2 linked regions of the Homo sapiens genome follow. The protein of the gene in region 1 interacts with the protein of each later gene in a biochemical or structural test. Each region holds a gene or a part of one and is shown on either strand. Other genes may lie near its edges.

Region 1 (5,428 bases):
CCCGGCTAAAACGGTGAAACCCCGTCTCTACTAAAAATACAAAAAATTAGCCGGGCGTAGTGGCGGGCGCCTGTAGTCCCAGCTACTTGGGAGGCTGAGGCAGGAGAATGGCGTGAACCCGGGAGGCGGAGCTTGCAGTGAGCCGAGATCCCGCCACTGCACTCCAGCCTGGGCGACAGAGCGAGACTCCGTCTCAAAAAAAATAAAAATAAAAAAAAAAAAAAAAAAAAAAAAAAATTAGCCGGATGTGGTGGCACGTGCCTGTAATTCCAGCTACTCGGGAGGCTGAGGCAGGAGAATCATTTGAACTTGGGAGTCAGAGGTTGCAGTGATCTGAGATTGCGCCATTGCACTCTAGCCTGGGTGACAGAGTGAGACTTTGTCTCCAAAAAAAAAAAAAAAAATTAGTAGATCTTATATTACTGCTTTTGGAAGCAATTAGTGAATGATGTAGGCAAAATAGTGATTGAATTTTGAAAAGCAATTAGACTGAAATTTCAAAGGGGTGGAGCATTTCTTAATAGCAACAAACAGATACATGGTCATTAATCCAAATATCTGAAATTTTCTGAGCATGTTTTTCAGAGTTTGGAATAGAGTGGAAGTGCTAATTTTCTGATTATTTAAGAACCTTTTAATCCATTCCCTTAGAGCATCAGGTGTTTTCAGATTGTGAATTTTCTAAAATAACATTGGCTGATTTGTGTTATTGAACATTGGTTGTAGCAACTTTTTTCCTTTTTTCCCCTTTATTTTCTGCCTCCCATATTTTGCTTAAGATTTTTTTCTGAAGTTTTAAAGTTTCATCAGTTATTTGGGTGGACCGTCTTGTGAATGCTCTAATTGAAGTTGTATAATATAAACAGTGTTGCTTTTAGTAGTTAGGATTAATTTTTCTTTTCATGGAAATCCTTTCTATTTGATTATATTTTTTCCTCTAACTTTTATTAATTCTTAGATGAGAATTAGGATTCTGCATTAAATCTTTCTGCACACATTTTTCTTACTGTCAGTAGGGACCTATGTCTTCCTTGGGTAAAGAAAATGTTATATTTTGGTTTTGCCATTTAAAATGATATAAAGACGTTATTAGTACTTTTTTAAAAAGGAACTTTTGGTATTTTTAAACAAGTACAAAAGTAGGTATGAACCACCATGTACCTGTTACTCAGCTTCAAATAGTATCAAATCTTAGTCATTACATTGTTTCATTCGTACTAGAACTTTTTTTCTTTTTTTTTTTGAGATGGTCTCTGTTGCCCAGGCTGGAGTGCAGTGGCATGATCCTAGCTCATTGTAGCCTTGAACTCCTGGGTTCAAGCAATTCTCCCACCTCAGCCTCTCAGGTTGCTCTGACTACAGGCACAGGACCATGCCCAGCTAATTTTCTTATTTTTTGTGGAAATGGGGGCTCACCCTGTTGCCCAGGGTAGTCTCAAACTTCTGGGCTTAAGTGATCCTCTTATCTCAGCCTCCCAAAGTGCTGGGATTGCAGGTGTGAGCCACTATGCTGTGATATAATAAAATGTCTTTATTTATTTATTTTGAGATGGTGTCCGACTCTGTCACCCAGGCTAAAGTGGCAGTGGTGCCATCCCGGCTCACTGCAACTTCTGCTTTCTGGGTTCAAGCGGTTCTCCTGCCTCAGTCTCCCAAGTAGCTAGAACTACAGGCGTGTGCCACCATGCCCAGCTAATTTTTATATTTGTGGTAGAGACAGGGTTTCACCATGTTGGCCAGGCTGGTCTCAAACTCCTGACCTCAGGTGATCCACCTGCCTCAGCCTCCCAAAGTGCTGGGATCACAGACGTGAGCCACTGTGCCCTGCCAAAATCAGGATTATTTAATCAACTTTTCTTTTTTTCTTTTTTTTTTTTTTTTTTGAGATGGAGTTTTGCTCTTGTTGCTCAGGCTGGAGTGCAGTGGTATGATCTTGGCTCACTGCAACCTCCACCTCCCGGGTTCAAGCAACTCTCCTGCCTCAGCCTCCTCAGTAGCTGGGATTACAGGCGCCCGCCACCACACCTGGCTAAGTTTTTGTATTTTTAGTAGAGACAGGGTTTCACCATGTTGGCCAGGCTGGTCTTGAACTCCTGACCTCAGGTGATCTGCCCGCTTCGGCCTCCCAAAGTGTTGGGATTACAGGCCTGAGCCACTGCACCCAGCCTTAATCAATTTTTCAAACAGACTTTGCTTATGGAACCACTTCTTGGAAAATTTGGCAGAACTTCTTTGTAGAGTTTATCTTGTCAAGAATACTTTCATAATGATATAATTAGCACTGTCCAAAGCAGTGTACAAATAATGTGTGCTACATGTAGTATGAGTCCAGTCTGTTTGTACAGGGATATCTTCAGACTAAAGTCCTAGGAGTGAGGCTTCCTGAAGAAGATGAGTCTTGAATAAAGATTGTGTACTGTTTGTATAGGCTAGCATATCCAGAAGGAGAACATTATGTACGTTCTATATAGGGAATGGAAGCATGTCTTAGTTCATTTTATGCTGCTATAACAGAATACCACAGACTGGATAATTATAATCGACAGAAATGTATTTGGCTCATGGTTTTGGAGACTGGGAAGAACCAGAACATGGCACTGGCATCTGGCAGGGCCGTCATGCTATGTCATCCCATGGTGTAAGGTAGAAGAGCAAGAGAGGGTGAGAGAACAAGAACAGAGAGGGCAGAACTTGCTTTTTATCAGGAACCTACTTCCATTACTATGGCATTATCATTGATGAGGGTAGAGCCCTCATAGCCTAATCACCTCTTTTAATGGCCTCAACTCTTAATACTACCACACTGGCAATTAAATTTCAATATGCGTTGTGGAGGAGACATTTAGACCACAGTAAAGAATGAGCAAACACTTGATAGGGGCTAGCATGATGTGAGAGGGATGTAAGGAGTCTGATCTCAATGGAATAAAGTGTTAATTACTGGGAATGGTGGCAGATAAATTTGTATTAGTAGGGTAGAGCTAGATTATGAAAGGTGTATTGGTGTCAGGTTGAATTTAATCTGCTAAGCAATAAGAAGCCAGTAGAGGTTGATAGGGAGCAGGAGAAAACATGAGAGTGTTTTTCAGAAAGATTACTCGTTCAATAGTGTGCAGCATATTTTGGGGATGACACTTGAGGTTTGTTTGAAAAATTAGAGACCAAGCCACTGAGGTAAGGAGCTATTCTGAGAGACGTTAGGATGGAAATTCTACAGGATTTGTCAGATAATTGATTCCATCTTCTCTTTAGTCCCTCATGCCCTAAAGTGACACCAAGGTTTTGAAGAGTAGAGAACTGAGGAAATGTGGTCTATTTGTCTTTGATAGTAAACTGCAATTTGTTATCCAAGCCCAGCTTTTGCGAAGAAAGTGATAGATGATTACTCCAATAACAGCCTCAAAAAGTTTTAGTAGGCCTGGTGTGGTGGCTCACACCTGTAATCCCAGCACTTTGGGAGGCTGAGGTGGGAGGATTGCTTGAGGTCAGGAGTTTGAGACCAGCCTGGCCAACATAGTGAAACCCCGTCTCTACTAAAAATACAAAAATTAGCTAGGTATGGTGGTGTGCCCCTGTAATCCCAGCTACTTGGGAGGCTGAGGCTAGGATAATTGCTTGAACCCGGGAGGCGGAGGTTGCAGTGAGCCAAGATGGCACCACTGCACTCCAGCCTGGGCTACAGAATGAAACTCTGTCTCCAAAAAAAAAAAAAAAAAGGTTTAGTAGAAAATAGCTACCAGTGTTTCTGAATGATTTTAAAGATATTCACTGGAGAATAGGAGCTTGGAAAATAAAGAAATATTATCTTTATTACAGTAAGAGAAATGAACATACTTCATTTGTAAAAGAGAAATTTAGGCCTTACCTGCTTCCTATGTGTATATTAGTTCAGAACGGTTATTAGGAGACTACTCACATTTGAATAGCTATAACCAGTAAATATTACTGGATGACTTTAATAATGGCCTGATCAGAGCTAAAGAAAATTCTGATGAAGTAGGGCATTAAATATTTCTAGCTACCAACTCCCTTTAAGGATGAATAAAGGTAGGTCCGCAGGCTGAGGAAGTATACAGGGAGATTGTGAAATGAAAACTTATCCTTTCATTTACTTCGATATCTTTGTTTTGCACAGGTAATATTAAAAAACAGGTCTGGTTAAACATCAGCCGTATATGTTTTGGTTGGAATTTTTTTTTTAAGTTCTGTGAACTTTGAAGTTTTTTTAAAATTCTTTGTTTTGGTTTGTAGACCCTGCATTAAGCCAACTTTCTGGATCTGTTGTGTATTTCTGGATAGCATACTTTGTTTTGTGAAGGAAAATTTTACATTTTATTTTAAAGCTGGGGGAAAAAAGTAGGTTTCTTGTTTCTCGCTTTGTAAATGAGGTAGATGAATAATACTGTATTGCCACTTATTATCTTCATGCTTCCTTCAATGTCTCAGGTATTCCTCTACTGTATGTAGCATGTGGATCTCAAAGTTTCCCACAGTTGAGTCTGAAAACATCTCAACTGTGCTTATAATTTTAAAATTAAACTTAATTTTACCATTTTCTTTATTGTTATTATAAAATATAGGACCTATCATAATGCCATGAACCTTTTAGTGACTTGGGAAATAGTGATTAAGATGATGCAACATAGTACATTATTGGGAAATAATCTGTTTTTCGTTGGCATCGCCTCTATCCTTAGACCTCTTTCATTCTAGTAATATGACAGAAATATTTTTGACATTTTAAAACTTCCTCATTTAGCTGATCGTGTGTGCTGTTGAAAATGAACACTAGAATAGAAAGCCATTGCCTTCTCCTTGGGGGGTTTGTTTTAACAGGGGTTTTCATGTTTTAATTTTGGATTTGAGATTTGAGTTGAGATATCCATTGTGTAGAGAATCTTGAGAAGGATTATCCATCTTTCTTGCTGTCACCAGTGTATGTGGGAGGGAAGAAAATATCAAATATAGGGTATACAGGAGAACCTTAGTATTTGGGAATATCTTCAGTGATAGCTGCCAAATCCAGTGTTTTCCCCAGGAAATTTGTATTTAATCCCTTGGAGTATGGGATGACTTTATGAGTGTCATAGTGGGTTGCTGTGGGTGAGGAGAGGAGAAAACGACTCCCTGTTTGAAAAATCTTTTCCAAACTGTTCGAAAATTTGAGATTAAATTGAATTAATCTCAAATTATTAATAGTTTATGTTTTTTTTTTAATTCATACAGTGCTTGGGAAGAAATTGGTTTTCTGTGAGTGGCCTTGGGGGTGCTTTGGGTGCTTTCCTTACCCAGGAAAAGGGAGGAGAGGCAGAAAATAAAGTGGGGAATAGTAGCTGCTGTGGATTTTTGCCTATGGCATTGATGGCATTGTTTTTTTGGCTGCCTTTATCTACATACCTTTTCTTTTCTAGTTAGGCTGTCATTACTA
Region 2 (5,428 bases), on another chromosome or scaffold:
TTTATCCAAAACTCAAGACCTTTAAAATAATTATTTTATGTATTTATTTATTTATATTTATTTATTTATTTATTTTTTGAGGAGTCTCACTCTGTCACCCAGGTTGGAGTGCAGTGTGACAATCTTGGCTCACTGCAACCTCTGCCTCCCAGGTTCAAGCAGTTCTCTCCCTCAGCCTCCCAAGTAGCTGGGATTACAGGCGCCCACCACCACACCCAGCTAATAAAATGATTATTTTAAATAGATCAGGAAAAGAAGTTAGCTTACAGAATATCCTTGCTGCCAAAAAATTACAAAAGTGTATGGAGTTCTTACCCCTGAGCAGTTATTTTAATTAATATTTACTTCAACATTTATTTTATATGAAAAATTCTTAGGAGCAAAAAAAAAAAAAAAGGTTTTTTAATGCTTTTCAAGGCTTCTAATACTTTAATGGGCAATGCTTTCTCATGTTAAGCTTTGTGGTAGAGAAAAAGAGATACATTTTAGGAAAGACAACTTCTCACTGAGTTTCTTCAGGTGTTAGACAAGACCATGAATACACAATGAAATTTCTGTTTTCTATTCTTTTGAAGATGTCTAGTCAGAGCTGGTCAATTTTACAGGAAGTGAAGGGCACTCACACGGCATTTCAATCGATTCCTTCCGAAGTTCTAGCAGTACTGCAACCCCAATGTTATCTTTTGTCATGACTCTGTTCAGCATAGCTTCAGACCCCTCAGAATTTGCCATGGCTAGCTGATTAAATTCAACAGTGTGTTTCTGAACCAAAGTAAATCTAAAACAAAAACAACACACACACACACACACAGAGTTGGGAATACCAAGAGGTTAGCTTTGTGGGAAACGCAGTTTTCCCAAACTTCCTTAACAGATACGATGGCACTTAAATCACATTACGGAAAATCCTCCACGTTCAGCATCAAGCTTCCCACATCCATTTAAAGTTGCTCTCAGTCTGTTATTGATACAAATAACAACTTGAAATATTTTTACAACTGAAGAAAATGTAGTCATCTTCTGTTTAAGTTTTATGTTGGAATATTCTACCTTGTAATTTTTAAACAATTCTTTTCTAAAGTATGGGTTTAAGAATCCCTGTACCGTCATAGAGGGAATTTTAACTACATGGTATTTCAATTAACAATTGGGAGTTAAACCCTAGTAAACACCTGAAGAAACAGCAGTACTTTAAGCATGTCTCCAAAACAAGGTTATTTCTGATGATTAAAAACAAACAAAAACCCCCTAGGTCAAACAGTATTCTTTGCTTCAGTAATAATATAGTGCCTCATTCTCTCATTTGCCAATTAGTTTCCACACCCTTGGCCCCCACCCTGCAAATACTGAGAAAACGTTCTTTTTAAAAAATAAGATGACTTACTTTTCTGTCTTGAAGAATATTGCACAGCCATCAACATGTTTCCTTTCTTGTTCTGACATTGTCCTAGCTCTAGACTTAGGACTGAAGAATCCATTATAGCCACGTTCTTTCAGCTCTACCAGAAAAAAACTGTAATACTGTTCCGTTTCAACCTCCTGAAAAGTTGTAAACAGCACAGTTATTTCATAAGACAAAAATTAGTCTGCATATTAACTTCTATGTATAGTTTGAGAGCTTGAAATAATTTCAAAGGACTGGTCTGCAGATTAAAGAATGTAACATCTTTCCGGGCCGGGCATGGTGGCTCATGTCTGTAACCCCAGCACTTTGAGAGGCCGAGGCGGGCGGATCACTAGAGCCCAGGAGTTCCAGACCAAGCCTGGCCAACATGGCGAAACCCCATCTCTACTAAAAATACAAAAATTAGCCAGGCATGGTGGTGCATGCCTGTAATCCCAGCTACTACGGAGGCTGAGAATCACTTGAACCCAGGAGGCGGAGGTTGCAGTGAGCTGAGATCATGCCACTGCATTCCAGCCTGGGGGACAGAGAAAGAGCCTGTCTCCCCACCACCCAAAAAAAAAAAAAAAAAAAAAAAAAAAGTAACATCTTTTCAACACTATTTATCTGAAACCAACTGGAACAGCGACTTGTCATTTTACAGGTACTAGGTACCAAGGGCAACTCATTGTTGTTTAAGAACAGTGAGTGAAAGACACACTTCTATGCATGTGTATTTCCTTATGTCTTAGAACTGAGGTGGAACAAGAACCACAGAGGTCGACGAACTTTACAAATCATAACTTCAGACCCTTGGGCAGAAAGTAACATGTTCAAGATCATATGAGTGACTATGAGAGTTGCACTGAGAACCCAAAATGTTCGTGTACCAAGTCAGTCCTTTTTACACGGTGCCTTAATTGTTCTAGCAACATGGTCGGCAATGCAAGTTATAGCTTGACCACGCTAGAATTTCAGTAACTTTGCCACCCAATTCAAAAATAGTGCAGGGACGCTGGAGGGAGGAGGAAGGTGAGTATTTAGCGGTCATGGCAAACGCATAAATCCCAGCTTAACACATTTGCCTATTTTGCAACATAGCACTGCAAAGCAAAGCAGGCAGTACTCCCAGGATTCACTAATAACAGAAAAAAGCAGTACTTTAAGAACTACTGAAGCTAAAACTTCAAATGTGTCAGCGTAATGTATTCCTAGTTGCTCCTTCCTTTATCAATGCTAGGTTGACTGTCTTCTGTCTGACTTACCTGAAGACTTACGATATCAGCATTGCAGCTCAAGATTTCTTGAATAATGGCCTTTTTCCTGTAGTCCCAGTTTAGCGCCCATGATGGACAGTAGCCGTATAACTGCCGGGTCGCATATTTATCACAAAGAACATTATAGCACATGACAGAAAACAAGGCTGTAGGAAAGATAACTTTACTTATTCACACATGTGGCAGAAAAAAATATATAATTAATTTCAGTAATGGTTTTCACTTAAATGTTAAGTTTGACCGTATTCATTCAATCTATAGTCACTGAAAAGCTACTGTACGCCACATATGGGGGATAAATAAAAGACGGATAATGCAAGCAGGATAGATAAGTGAACAAGTTAGAATACAATGTACTACCTGCTACAGAGGTAGGCACAGAAGGTCTGGAAGTGAAAAGTCTAAGCTCGTGAGCCCTTCAGTCTCTGAGCCTAACATTCCTCATTTCTATACTCCTTCTACCATGCTACCAACTGTTAATGTAAGATGTGGAAACTGGATAGGTAGTATCCTTAATAGGCATGCCTCATTTTCTTCTACAGCACAACTATTGTTAATTCATGCAAAATGAAAACGGTATCACAGACCAAATTTTGTTACACGCACCATGAAAGCTCCCAAACTATTTACATAGAATTTAGGTTAAAAGGAGATGAGCAGTCATTAGTTCCACTTTCCTCTAAGTAAGGGTTTGGCTCTCTTATAACTCGGTAGTGTCAAATCCATTTGGAACATGCTAGGATTTGGAAACTTCTCATAGAGAAAAATTTGGGTGTATTCATTTTAAGTGAATTTCATCAGTACACTACAGAAGGGTTTCTCAACCAGAGTCGCACTACTGACATTTCAGGTGAAGTCTGTTGTGGGGGCCTGTGCCGTGTACTATAGAATGCTGAGCAGCAACCCTGGCCTCCATCCACCAGACGCCAGCAGCACTTCTCCCCAGTTACGACCATCAAAATTGTCTCCAGACATTGCCAAATGTCCTCTGGGGGATAAACTGCCCGTTTGAGAAGCACTGCTTTATAGCACACTTTCTATATAGCACAATGTAGTATACATAGAGGTCATGTGAGCAAGAATTCTTTTTTATTACCTCCCAAACCAAACCAACCTTAAACATTTTGTCTTAATGCTACCTGTAATCTAAGCATGCTGACAATACTGTTAGGCTTATAGAGACTGAGCAAAAATAACAGTTAAAAAATAAAAGACTACCAACCAGTTGGCCTTGTCCTATCTGGTTCTTGTAACATAATCCAAGACCTTGGAGGTGGTTGTTCTGTTGTAACTAGTTGAATAGAAAATACAGAATTAAGCAATATTCTTACACGTCTTCCTAATAAAAAGGTTTAAACAAATAACCACTTACTTCTTTTTGCAGTACCTGACAAATTATCAAGCAAATAGTTCAGCAGCCGTCTTGTTCCATCTGGTTCCTGATAAAGGTTCAATATATCCTGGGTAAGGGGATTTCCTGGAAATATTTTTGAAATAAGTAAAATGAAACTAAGTAATAAAATGTTTCAAAATTTTAAAATGTATCAAAATTATCAGATCATCCATAACTATGTTATAGTTACTAGTAAGATGTCAGACTATAGAAAATATTGTTTTTTCAGTTTCTGATATAAGTAAAAATGATTCATACCATGTTCTATATACACATTCAAAACATAATGTTAATGGGCTGATGTCAATCAGAAATGCACTAGCAGTGCTCTATATCTGACCCTGCCTTGCCAACACTTTCAATAATACAGATGGTTATAACAAACAAGAGTGAGCAAAACACGAACGGGGCAGGCAGGTGACTGGGAGAGTGGGTGGGCAGAGGAAACAGTGAAGGGAAGGATGAAAGCCAGCGTAATGCATCAGAGAATCAAAACTCTACAATGTCACAAAGCTAACAACAAAACACCCTAATGACAAATATACACTTGCACTTAGATTTTTTAAAGTCATACTGAACAAAGCAACAAAATGGGGCTGACTTGGCTTAAGAATTAACTCACTAAGGAGGGGGAAAAAATCCCAGGGCCATGAGCCATCTGTAAATTCAATAACTGCTTTGTTCCAAAATGAGAGCAAAAACAATGATTTACATATACCTACAAGAATCTCAAATCCTCTCAGAAGGGTTTCTTATGTACATGAGAAATAAAAGTACAAATAACAACAGTGCAGCGCAGGGTTTCATGGAGCAAAGTTCCTATCCATCCTACACAAGCATTGTGTATTATTCTGGATGCCACAGCGCCATTTTAAGAAAACCAGACAAATTCTGCAGTTTGAAGAAGGCAGATAAAATGGTCAAAGATGTTAACCATACCAAATGAAGAAAAACTAAAGGATATGGTAGATAAGAATGATCAAAACCTAAAGGAAGTGTTTTTTCCTATTCTCTCATAAAAGACTGGACTCAAAGAGCAGAAGGAAGACATGCCTGTAATCCCAGCACTTTGGGAGGCCGAGGCGGGCGGATCACGAGGTTAGGAGATCGAGACCATCCTGGCTAACACGGTGAAACCTCGTCTCTACTAAAAATATAAAAGAAAAAAAAAGCAAAAACAAACAAAAAAAAACAGCCAGGCGTGGTGGCGGGCGCCTGTAGTCCAGCTACTCAGGAGGCTGAGGCAGGAGAATGGCGTGAACCTGGGAGGCAGAGCTTGCAGTGAGCCAAGATCGCGCCACTGCACTCCAGCCTGGGCAACAGAGCGAGACTCTGTCTCAAAAAAAAAAAAAAAAATTTAACAGGAAAGGCCAA

The links.
Region 2: the proteins of CNOT4 (region 1) and CNOT6 form a complex in vitro, tested with the Homo sapiens proteins (one study listed by BioGRID).

Annotation. Positions count from the first base shown.
Region 1 is NC_000007.14:135,499,272-135,504,699, reverse strand, and holds part of CNOT4 (CCR4-NOT transcription complex subunit 4), read left to right. Parts: intron 1-5,428. UniProt on the Homo sapiens protein: Has E3 ubiquitin ligase activity, promoting ubiquitination and degradation of target proteins. Involved in activation of the JAK/STAT pathway. Catalyzes ubiquitination of methylated RBM15.
Region 2 is NC_000005.10:180,563,199-180,568,626, reverse strand, and holds part of CNOT6 (CCR4-NOT transcription complex subunit 6), read right to left. Parts: intron 4,139-5,428; coding exon 4,034-4,138; intron 3,953-4,033; coding exon 3,884-3,952; intron 2,808-3,883; coding exon 2,650-2,807; intron 1,540-2,649; coding exon 1,385-1,539; intron 779-1,384; coding exon 624-778; intron 1-623. UniProt on the Homo sapiens protein: Poly(A) nuclease with 3'-5' RNase activity.